Regions from separate parts of the Homo sapiens genome. Here region 2 is linked to region 1. The links come from fine-mapping of genetic effects on gene expression. A gene starts in region 1. The other region holds a variant in brackets. All regions are shown on one strand. Distances are from middle to middle.

What was found. PIP is the estimated chance that this variant, and not a neighbour inherited with it, causes the effect.
Region 2: its variant is fine-mapped to the expression of CELSR2 in sun-exposed skin (GTEx, PIP above 0.99). The same link has a PIP of 0.9 or more in esophagus mucosa.

The regions. Positions count from the first base shown.
Region 1 is chr1:109,246,430-109,251,790 of GRCh38, forward strand. CELSR2 (cadherin EGF LAG seven-pass G-type receptor 2) reads left to right here and starts at 3,110. Exons shown (of 34, transcript NM_001408.3): 1 at 3,110-5,361. The coding sequence starts at 3,651. RefSeq lists an enhancer at 2,427-3,147 and silencers at 3,149-3,208, 3,369-3,468, 4,567-4,757.
Region 2 is chr1:109,272,073-109,277,433 of GRCh38, forward strand. It overlaps CELSR2 (cadherin EGF LAG seven-pass G-type receptor 2), which reads left to right. Exons shown (of 34, transcript NM_001408.3): 29 at 206-333; 30 at 568-656; 31 at 761-955; 32 at 1,094-1,264; 33 at 1,364-1,598; 34 at 1,950-3,679. The coding sequence ends at 1,977. Among named protein-coding and RNA genes, the nearest start is that of PSRC1, 8.4 kb to the right of the region's middle. RefSeq lists enhancers at 2,180-4,211, 5,353-5,361 and cis regulatory regions at 2,892-2,911, 2,896. The variant T/TC (reference allele first, on the strand shown) is at 2,169.

The sequences.
Region 1 (5,361 bases):
CCATCAGCAGCCTCCCTCCCCACCCCTCCTTCCCAGCAGGCCATTGGTTCCAGAATTTCAGGCCACAGGGATCTGCCCAAGGCAGAGCTCACCTTGTTCTTCCTCACCAGCGTGCTAGGCCACAGCAGAGCCACCCCAATCTTCAGCTCCAGCCAAGCTGATGCTTGCATTTCATTCATTCCTTTCATTCATTCATAGTGTACTGCTTAAGAGAGTGGGCTCTGGGGTCAGATTGCCGGGGTCCAAATCCTAGCTCTTCCATTACTAGCTGTATAATCATGGAGAAGACACTTAATGTGTAGATTAAGTGACTTAACTGATGAATTCCTCTTCCAGGAATGCTGTTCCTGATTCTTGAAGATGCAGCCCAAGTCCCGTCTCCTCTAGAGGCCCTCTGGGATTTCCTCCACCCTCACTGCTCTGTCCTCTGAATTCCTTTAGCCTTTTCTCTCAGTTGCTTCTGGAGCACTTCACCCATGCGACCCTGTTGTGTTGAAAGCCAGGGCCATGCCTTATCCAGGGGGTCCTCAGGAAGCAACCTGAGTAAGGAAATCCCACCAGAGCTAAAGGACAGCCGCAAGGCTAGCCAAGCAGGTTTCCTTCCTTCCCAGAGCCTCCACTGTGAAGTGGGAGGTTTGGACTAGAAGAACAATAAATTCTCTTTTAACAGACCCCAAGCCCTTGCTGCCCCTTGATAGCACCTAAAAGCTATGCAGAAGGGAGGCCTAAATGTCCCTTACACACAGGAGGGAGGTCCATAGGTTCCTTACAACTGGAAAGCTCCATGAAGCAGGCAGCCCTTCCCTGGGGATCAGGGAGGCCTCCACCAGGGCAACCCCTCCCTCATTTGAGACTCTCAGTGATGCATATGAAACTTGGAAATTTCCCTCCTGCTTTTGGGAGTTGGAAGTATCTGAGGAAGTGATGGGGAGAGAGCTCTGTCCTGTGCCCCCGGAGGGAGGACTGGGGAGGATTAAGGACTATTTGCCAAATGTGCTTGGGGATGAAGGAAAGGGTTCCTTGGATCCCCCAACCTATCTGCCTTTGGGTGGAAAGGCCACCCACCTGGAAGGGGCTTCTGAGCTCATGCCTTCCCTGGCAACCCCTGCCTCAAGGTGCAAGGCCCCAGAACCACCTTCCGTGATCCAGAGCCAGGGCTACTCTTTCCTCCCACCCAGAAAGCTTATTTTAGCAACAAAGGGAGCGAGATGAATGGAGAGTTGCAGCTTCTCCACGGGTTGGCTTGGGCCTTCACCAGAAATGAGAGTCTCATTACCCAACCCCAATTCAAAGGATAATTAACAGATGGTATAATTTCCAAGCATTCTCTGCACCACATGGCTATTAGGTGAAGAACAAAATGCCCACGCAGCCCCTAGATCCTTCCAAACTCCAGAGTCTGAGGAAGTCTAGAGAGGCAGAGCCCTGCGGAGGCGTGTAACCCACGCCTCCATCTCCAGAGCTGCCCTTGGCCTTGCTCAGAGGAAGAAAGCTCCTGTTTGGTCAAAGGGGAGGGCATTTCCTTGAGCCATGGGTCCTCCTCCTACTTCTATCCATCCTGCCAGGAGCACAGTCTAACCCTAATCTTTCTTGCTGTACCCAAGGCCCATCTCCTTTCCTGTTTCCCCAGGGGAAAAGAGAAAAGCTGATTTCTCATCCTTGGCCTCACTGTGTGGTCACACAGACACTCCTTGGGCCTGGGGCTGGGGGATCCTCTGCTGTGACCCAGTGAGAGTGGCACCACTGTGACCGGGGGCAGTGGTAGAAGGGAGCACCTGATCCAGTGCTTTTCAGATGGGTTCCTCCAGACCCTCAAGTTGCACAGAGCAGCCCAGGGATTTCTTGGTTGGGGGAGTGGTGGAGAGGGGCAAGGCCCTGACCCCCTCACTTCAACCCAGCAGCACTACTCATCTGTTCTATATTCTGGCCTTCCACTTCAGATTTCTTTTGAAGAAAAGAATTCTACTGCTAAATAAACATTTGAGAACCATTCACCTTATTCAATCCCCTCATTTTACAAAAAGGGACATTGAGGCACAGAATTTGAGCAAGGTCACATAGCTGTGGTGTTGGAGGCTGGGACCCAGGCCCAGGCATCCCCCCAGGCCAGGGCATCCCCCCAGGGACTACCTGACTGGGCCCCTGGCTGCTCCAGGATGTAGGGAAGCCTTTTCTGGGTCGCCTGCACGGCTCCTGCCTGGCTCTCCGTGTGGTCCAGCTTCATGTCTGGTCCTCTTGGAGAACCCCTGGAATCCTGCACACCCTCTCAAATGAAGCTGCCTTGGAGAGGGTCAGGAGCCCGGGTACCAGGTAGGCCTCCTCGCTGGTCACAAAACTGTGGCGGAAGGAGGGGGTAGCCGCAGGACATGGACAGGGAGGCAGGAGGGGATGAGAGGCCGCCTCTCTAGACAGGACCTCAGGGGGCAGTGTAAGCCCCTTGTCTAGAATCCAGGAAGCCTGTGTTAAAGCTAGGCTCCACCGCAGCCGGCCTCCGAATCTGGTGACAGTGTGTTTGCACCACCTGGCTTCCACCCACTCTGACCCTTCTAATTTACTTCCCTGGAAAAGCCCAAGTGGTGTCCAACATGAGGCTGGGGTCATTCTTCCAACAGCCCGACCCCAAGGGGCATGCTGGTCAGACAACAGCCTCGCTGGTGGGGTGGAGGGGACGGTAGGGAGCGAGTGGGCCCGGTGACTCATTGTGGGTGCTTCTCTGGGATTTTGGAGGCTTTGTTGTGTTGCTCAGGGCCCTTTTAACTCTGTCTGACCTATGGGAGGGGACAGCAACGAGGGCTTTTATGACTGGAATGAACTGGAAACTTGGCCTCTGAGAGCCCTTAAAATGTTTTGGAAACCTCTAGGCATACTTAGGGTACTTCCACCATGATTATCATCGGCTGTGTGGCTTCCGATCGCTAATTCGCACCGGGCATCTGGCGAGGCCGGCCTGGGGAAATTGGGATGGAGGGTCCTGCTGGAGGGAATCCTGGCGCTTTGGGCGGAGGAGTGCTCTGGGTGGGGCCCACCTCCTCCAGCGCGGCCGGCGTTGCCGCTTTAAGGCGGCCGCGGCGCGAGCAGGTCTATGGTAATGAGCCGCCGCCGCGACTCTGCAGAGCTCGCCCGCCCGCCGGGGAGGCGAGGGAGCGCGGGGCTGGGCCCGGGGCCGCGGCGACAGGCAGCAGCCGCGGCGGGGACGCGGGGCGCGAGCGGGCGGCGCGGGACCGTCGGGGGCCGCCGGGGCCGGGCCGGGGTCGGGGCGCACGGCTACGCGGGCGCAGGTGGGCGATCCCATAGGGGCGGAGGGGGCACCCCGGCTCCGGAACCCGGGGCCCGGCAAGGCCAGGGGCGCCGCGGGGCCCCCGGGCGCAGGTGGTGAGTGCCCGGAGCGCAGGTGGAGGCGCGGCGGCAGCCCGCGGTGCTCAGGGTGACCCGGGAGCGGGTCTGGCTCAGGGGGCAGTGGGAGCCCGGGCTCGTCGGAGGGTGCAGCGCGGGGTCCCGCCGAGCCATCCAGACGCAGGCCCCGCGGGGCGCACGGGAGGCCCCCGGGGACTGGCGCCCTGGCCCGGGCATGAGGCGCGGCGGGGCCGGCAGGAGCCGGAGGAGGAGCCGCCGCCGCCGTTGACCCGGCCGCCGGCCGGGAGCTGGGAGAGATGCGGAGCCCGGCCACCGGCGTCCCCCTCCCAACGCCGCCGCCGCCGCTGCTGCTGCTGTTGCTGCTGCTGCTGCCGCCGCCACTATTGGGAGACCAAGTGGGGCCCTGTCGTTCCTTGGGGTCCAGGGGACGAGGCTCTTCGGGGGCCTGCGCCCCCATGGGCTGGCTCTGTCCATCCTCAGCGTCGAACCTCTGGCTCTACACCAGCCGCTGCAGGGATGCGGGCACTGAGCTGACTGGCCACCTGGTACCCCACCACGATGGCCTGAGGGTTTGGTGTCCAGAATCCGAGGCCCATATTCCCCTACCACCAGCTCCTGAAGGCTGCCCCTGGAGCTGTCGCCTCCTGGGCATTGGAGGCCACCTTTCCCCACAGGGCAAGCTCACACTGCCCGAGGAGCACCCGTGCTTAAAGGCTCCACGGCTCAGATGCCAGTCCTGCAAGCTGGCACAGGCCCCCGGGCTCAGGGCAGGGGAAAGGTCACCAGAAGAGTCCCTGGGTGGGCGTCGGAAAAGGAATGTAAATACAGCCCCCCAGTTCCAGCCCCCCAGCTACCAGGCCACAGTGCCGGAGAACCAGCCAGCAGGCACCCCTGTTGCATCCCTGAGGGCCATCGACCCGGACGAGGGTGAGGCAGGTCGACTGGAGTACACCATGGATGCCCTCTTTGATAGCCGCTCCAACCAGTTCTTCTCCCTGGACCCAGTCACTGGTGCAGTAACCACAGCCGAGGAGCTGGATCGTGAGACCAAGAGCACCCACGTCTTCAGGGTCACGGCGCAGGACCACGGCATGCCCCGACGAAGTGCCCTGGCTACACTCACCATCTTGGTTACTGACACCAATGACCATGACCCTGTGTTCGAGCAGCAGGAGTACAAGGAGAGCCTCAGGGAGAACCTGGAGGTTGGCTATGAGGTGCTCACTGTCAGGGCCACGGATGGTGATGCCCCTCCCAATGCCAATATTCTGTACCGCCTGCTGGAGGGGTCTGGGGGCAGCCCCTCTGAAGTCTTTGAGATCGACCCTCGCTCTGGGGTGATCCGAACCCGTGGCCCTGTGGATCGGGAAGAGGTGGAATCCTACCAGCTGACGGTAGAGGCAAGTGACCAGGGTCGGGACCCGGGTCCTCGGAGTACCACAGCCGCTGTTTTCCTTTCTGTGGAGGATGACAATGATAATGCCCCCCAGTTTAGTGAGAAGCGCTATGTGGTCCAGGTGAGGGAGGATGTGACTCCAGGGGCCCCAGTACTCCGAGTCACAGCCTCGGATCGAGACAAGGGGAGCAATGCCGTGGTGCACTATAGCATCATGAGTGGCAATGCTCGGGGACAGTTTTATCTGGATGCCCAGACTGGAGCTCTGGATGTGGTGAGCCCTCTTGACTATGAGACGACCAAGGAGTACACCCTACGGGTGCGAGCACAGGATGGTGGCCGTCCCCCACTCTCTAATGTCTCTGGCTTGGTGACAGTACAGGTCCTGGATATCAACGACAATGCCCCCATCTTCGTCAGCACCCCTTTCCAGGCTACTGTCCTGGAGAGTGTCCCCTTAGGCTACCTGGTTCTCCATGTCCAGGCTATCGACGCTGATGCTGGTGACAATGCCCGCCTGGAATACCGCCTTGCTGGGGTGGGACATGACTTCCCCTTCACCATCAACAATGGCACAGGCTGGATCTCTGTGGCTGCTGAACTGGACCGGG
Region 2 (5,361 bases), 26 kb after region 1:
GGGCATGCAGGGGTAGCACAGCTGTGGCAGAGCTGTGACCACTGCCAGGCCTCAATATGGGGACAGCGGAGAAGCAGGGCCCTCTCTTTCAGACCTGAGCATGTGGAAGGTGGAACTTAGGGCAAGTTCCCTCCACCCTCCTTCTTCCCAGCCTGGGGCCAGCCATCCCACTCCCCACTTACTGACCTCTCTGTTCCCTGCCTAGTCCTACAACTGCCCCAGCCCCTACGCAGATGGGCGGCTGTACCAGCCCTACGGAGACTCGGCCGGCTCTCTGCACAGCACCAGTCGCTCGGGCAAGAGTCAGCCCAGCTACATCCCCTTCTTGCTGAGGTGAATCCCGGAGATGGGAGGGTGGAGGAGGGGAGGAGGGGCCCACGCATGCTGGACCCAGGCCAGCCAGCTGTTGGGAGTTGAGGAGCACACACTGTGGCTGACGTGGGGGCCAGCTTGGATTAGAAGCTGTAAGGGACCCACAGCAGGAACCAGGATCCCAGGGGAGAGGAGAGACTGGGACCCTGGGCAAGGGGCCAGGCTGACCCCTCCAGCATGGTCTCATCTTCCTAGGGAGGAGTCCGCACTGAACCCTGGCCAAGGGCCCCCTGGCCTGGGGGATCCAGGCAGCCTGTTCCTGGAAGGTCAAGACCAGCAGCATGGTGAGGACAGAACGCTCTGGCCACCCAGCAGGGCAGTTGGCTGGCTTTTACTGAAGGTGGGTGGAGGTGGCTGGGCTGGCTGTGATCTCTCCCTGGCCTCCTAGATCCTGACACGGACTCCGACAGTGACCTGTCCTTAGAAGACGACCAGAGTGGCTCCTATGCCTCTACCCACTCATCAGACAGTGAGGAGGAAGAAGAGGAGGAGGAAGAGGAGGCCGCCTTCCCTGGAGAGCAGGGCTGGGATAGCCTGCTGGGGCCTGGAGCAGAGAGACTGCCCCTGCACAGTACTCCCAAGGGTGGGCCAGCACTGGGGCTGTGGCCTTTGGGGCCAGTGGGAGGACAGTGGGCCTGGGGTTCTTGGGAAGCAGGACTGGGGTGGTGGCCTCCTGGCTATCTGCCCTCTGTGGGCCTCATCTACTTCCTTTCCCCACCAGATGGGGGCCCAGGGCCTGGCAAGGCCCCCTGGCCAGGAGACTTTGGGACCACAGCAAAAGAGAGTAGTGGCAACGGGGCCCCTGAGGAGCGGCTGCGGGAGAATGGAGATGCCCTGTCTCGAGAGGGGTCCCTAGGCCCCCTTCCAGGCTCTTCTGCCCAGCCTCACAAAGGTGAGTGGGGCACCCCCAGCTGCCGAGCTCCCCTAGTCAGCAGCCTCATACCTCACATTCTCCTGTGGCCGCACCTCACAGCCCCGCCCCGGCCCACAGGCATCCTTAAGAAGAAGTGTCTGCCCACCATCAGCGAGAAGAGCAGCCTCCTGCGGCTCCCCCTGGAGCAATGCACAGGGTCTTCCCGGGGCTCCTCCGCTAGTGAGGGCAGCCGGGGAGGCCCCCCTCCCCGCCCACCGCCCCGGCAGAGCCTCCAGGAGCAGCTGAACGGGGTCATGCCCATCGCCATGAGCATCAAGGCAGGCACGGTGGATGAGGACTCGTCAGGCTCCGAGTGAGTGTGGCCGGGTGGGCGGGACGGGGTGCAGCCCCTCGGAGGCCTCACCTGGGCCCAGAGCTGCCTCCGGGCCTCCCCAGGTGACTCTGGATGGCATTTGGAGGACAAATGGGCAGAACTGGCCCAGCTCCCTTACTATGCCGTGCCCACAAACCATGGTGCCTTGCGGGGAGGGCCACCCCTCCTAGGCTCTACGCGGCGCAGCCCAGCCTAGGGCAGAGTGCGGGAGGATGGGGAGCTGGGGGTGCTTTCCTGTTTCCTTCGTCTGGTGAAAGCTTTCACTCTCTCCTCTGTTTCAACTAACCCTCTGTCTGCCTTTTCTGCCACTTTCCTTTCCTGCCTCTCCAGATTTCTCTTCTTTAACTTCCTGCATTAACCCTGGGCCGTGGTTCCTACGCCCGAGGCTCCCTTCCCTTCCCCAGCCGCACTCATGCCCTGCTCCTGTCTTGTGCTTTATCCTGCCCCGCTCCCCATCGCCTGCCCGCAGCAGCGACGAAACGTCCATCTGAGGAGCCTGGGCCTTGCCGGGAGGGGTACTCACCCCACCTAAGGCCATCTAGTGCCAAC[T/TC]CCCCCCCCACCATTCCCCTCACTGCACTTTGGACCCCTGGGGCCAACATCTCCAAGACAAAGTTTTTCAGAAAAGAGGAAAAAAAGAATTTAAAAAAGGATCTCCACTCTTCATGACTTCAGGGATTCATTTTTTTTATACGCTGGAAATTGACTCCCCTTTCCCTTCCCAAAGAGGATAGGACCTCCCAGGATGCTTCCCAGCCTCTCCTCAGTTTCCCATCTGCTGTGCCTCTGGGAGGAGAGGGACTCCTGGGGGGCCTGCCCCTCATACGCCATCACCAAAAGGAAAGGACAAAGCCACACGCAGCCAGGGCTTCACACCCTTCAGGCTGCACCCGGGCAGGCCTCAGAACGGTGAGGGGCCAGGGCAAAGGGTGTGCCTCGTCCTGCCCGCACTGCCTCTCCCAGGAACTGGAAAAGCCCTGTCCGGTGAGGGGGCAGAAGGACTCAGCGCCCCTGGACCCCCAAATGCTGCATGAACACATTTTCAGGGGAGCCTGTGCCCCCAGGCGGGGGTCGGGCAGCCCCAGCCCCTCTCCTTTTCCTGGACTCTGGCCGTGCGCGGCAGCCCAGGTGTTTGCTCAGTTGCTGACCCAAAAGTGCTTCATTTTTCGTGCCCGCCCCGCGCCCCGGGCAGGCCAGTCATGTGTTAAGTTGCGCTTCTTTGCTGTGATGTGGGTGGGGGAGGAAGAGTAAACACAGTGCTGGCTCGGCTGCCCTGAGGGTGCTCAATCAAGCACAGGTTTCAAGTCTGGGTTCTGGTGTCCACTCACCCACCCCACCCCCCAAAATCAGACAAATGCTACTTTGTCTAACCTGCTGTGGCCTCTGAGACATGTTCTATTTTTAACCCCTTCTTGGAATTGGCTCTCTTCTTCAAAGGACCAGGTCCTGTTCCTCTTTCTCCCCGACTCCACCCCAGCTCCCTGTGAAGAGAGAGTTAATATATTTGTTTTATTTATTTGCTTTTTGTGTTGGGATGGGTTCGTGTCCAGTCCCGGGGGTCTGATATGGCCATCACAGGCTGGGTGTTCCCAGCAGCCCTGGCTTGGGGGCTTGACGCCCTTCCCCTTGCCCCAGGCCATCATCTCCCCACCTCTCCTCCCCTCTCCTCAGTTTTGCCGACTGCTTTTCATCTGAGTCACCATTTACTCCAAGCATGTATTCCAGACTTGTCACTGACTTTCCTTCTGGAGCAGGTGGCTAGAAAAAGAGGCTGTGGGCAGGAAAGAAAGGCTCCTGTTTCTCATTTGTGAGGCCAGCCTCTGGCTTTTCTGCCGTGGATTCTCCCCCGTCTTCTCCCCTCAGCAATTCCTGCAAAGGGTTAAAAATTTAACTGGTTTTTACTACTGATGACTTGATTTAAAAAAAATACAAAGATGCTGGATGCTAACTTGGTACTAACCATCAGATTGTACAGTTTGGTTGTTGCTGTAAATAGGGTAGCGTTTTGTTGTTGTTGTTTTTTCATGCCCCATACTACTGAATAAACTAGTTCTGTGCGGGTACAGCACTGTCACTGTCCGCTTCTGTGTGGTACCCTGTCCTCCCACAGGGAGGAAGGTCTGGTCTCTGGAAAACAGAAGAGCCGGCAGGGCCCAGAAGGCCCCACCGGGAGGTCGGGAGACTCAGACACCACTGGCTGATAAGCCTGTCCCTCTGCCCATGTCCATGACACTGCTCCCAAATAGCTGGATCAGCACAGAGCCCATTTCCTGGCATTTCCAAGGAAGACATGGTGGGCGGGCAGGAAGGTGTCCTTTTCACCAGGACGGAAAGGACTTCTACGGTGGGAGAGGCTGCACGGGGCAGGCAGCCTTCCAGCCCAGCCCCTCAGGGCTGAGTCCTAGACAGGGATGAGTTTTCTGGGGCAGAATTCAAGAAGCAGGGAGGGCTGCATTGAGAGGCTGGTTGGAATTGAATGGTGGTCAGTGACTCAGTGCCTCCTAACTATACTGCTCAGGGTTGTTTTTTGTTTTTTTTTTCCCATTGGAAAATGAAGCAGCTACTCATACTGAAGCCAAGTGTGTGCTTTGCAACATTACTTCTCAGCCTAAGTTTTGTTTTTGTGTATATATATGATATATATTTAAAAGTATATATGCTTTTTAAATTTAATAGAGGCGGGGTCTCACTATGTTGATCAGGCTGGTCTTGAATTCCTAGGCTCAAGTGATCCTCCCGCCTTGGCCTCCCAAACTGGGGTCACAGATATGAGCTACCGCATCCGGCCTAGTTCCAAGTTTTGTGTTTGTCGAAGTTCCATTCAATAAACTAGAAAGGCAGCTGGGTGCGGTGGCTCATGCCTGTAATCCCAGCACTTTGGGAGGCCGAGGTGGACAGATCACCTGAGATCAGGAGTTTGAGACTAGCCTGGGCAACATGGTGAAACTCTGTCTCTACTAAAAATACAAAAAAATTAGCTGGGTGCGGTGGTACATGCCTGTAATCGCAGCTACTCCAGGGGCTGAGACAGGAGAATCACTTGAACCTGGGAGGTGGAGATTGCAGTGAGCTGAGATCGTGCCACTGCACTCCAGCCTGGGTGACAGAGCGAGGCTCCATCTCAAAACAAACAAAAAAACTAGAAAGGGAGTTAACCTGGGGACAATATAGGGTGATGATTAAGAACACAAACCCTAGCTGGGCAGTGGTTCACGCCTGTAATCCCAATACTTTGGGAGGCCAAGGCATGTGGATCACTTGAGGCCAGGAGTTAAGAGACCAGCCTGGCCAACATGGTGAAACCCATATCTACAAAAAATACAAAAAAGCCAGCTGTGGTGGTGCATGCCTGTAGTCCCAGCTACTAGGGAGGCTGAGGTGGGAGGATGGCTCAAACCCAGGAAGTAGAGGCTGCAGTGAGCCAAGATCGCACCACTGCACTCCAGCCTGGGTAATAGAGCCAGACCTTGTCTCAAAAAAAAAAAAAAAAGGACACAAACCCTAGAACCAGACTGAATGACTTAATCTTTCTGAGCCTTAAGTTTCTCTGCCCACAAAATGAGGATGATGATAAAAGCATCCACCTAATTGAGCTTTTATGAGGATTAAGTGAGTTAACACATGTAGAGTGCTTGGAAGAGTTCATAGTACATAGTAAGAGGCCAGTAAACACTGGCTTTCTGTGTTGTTGCTACTGGGTGCAATGGAAGAGTGCACAGAGAGAAAAAGTAGAAAGCCAGGCCCA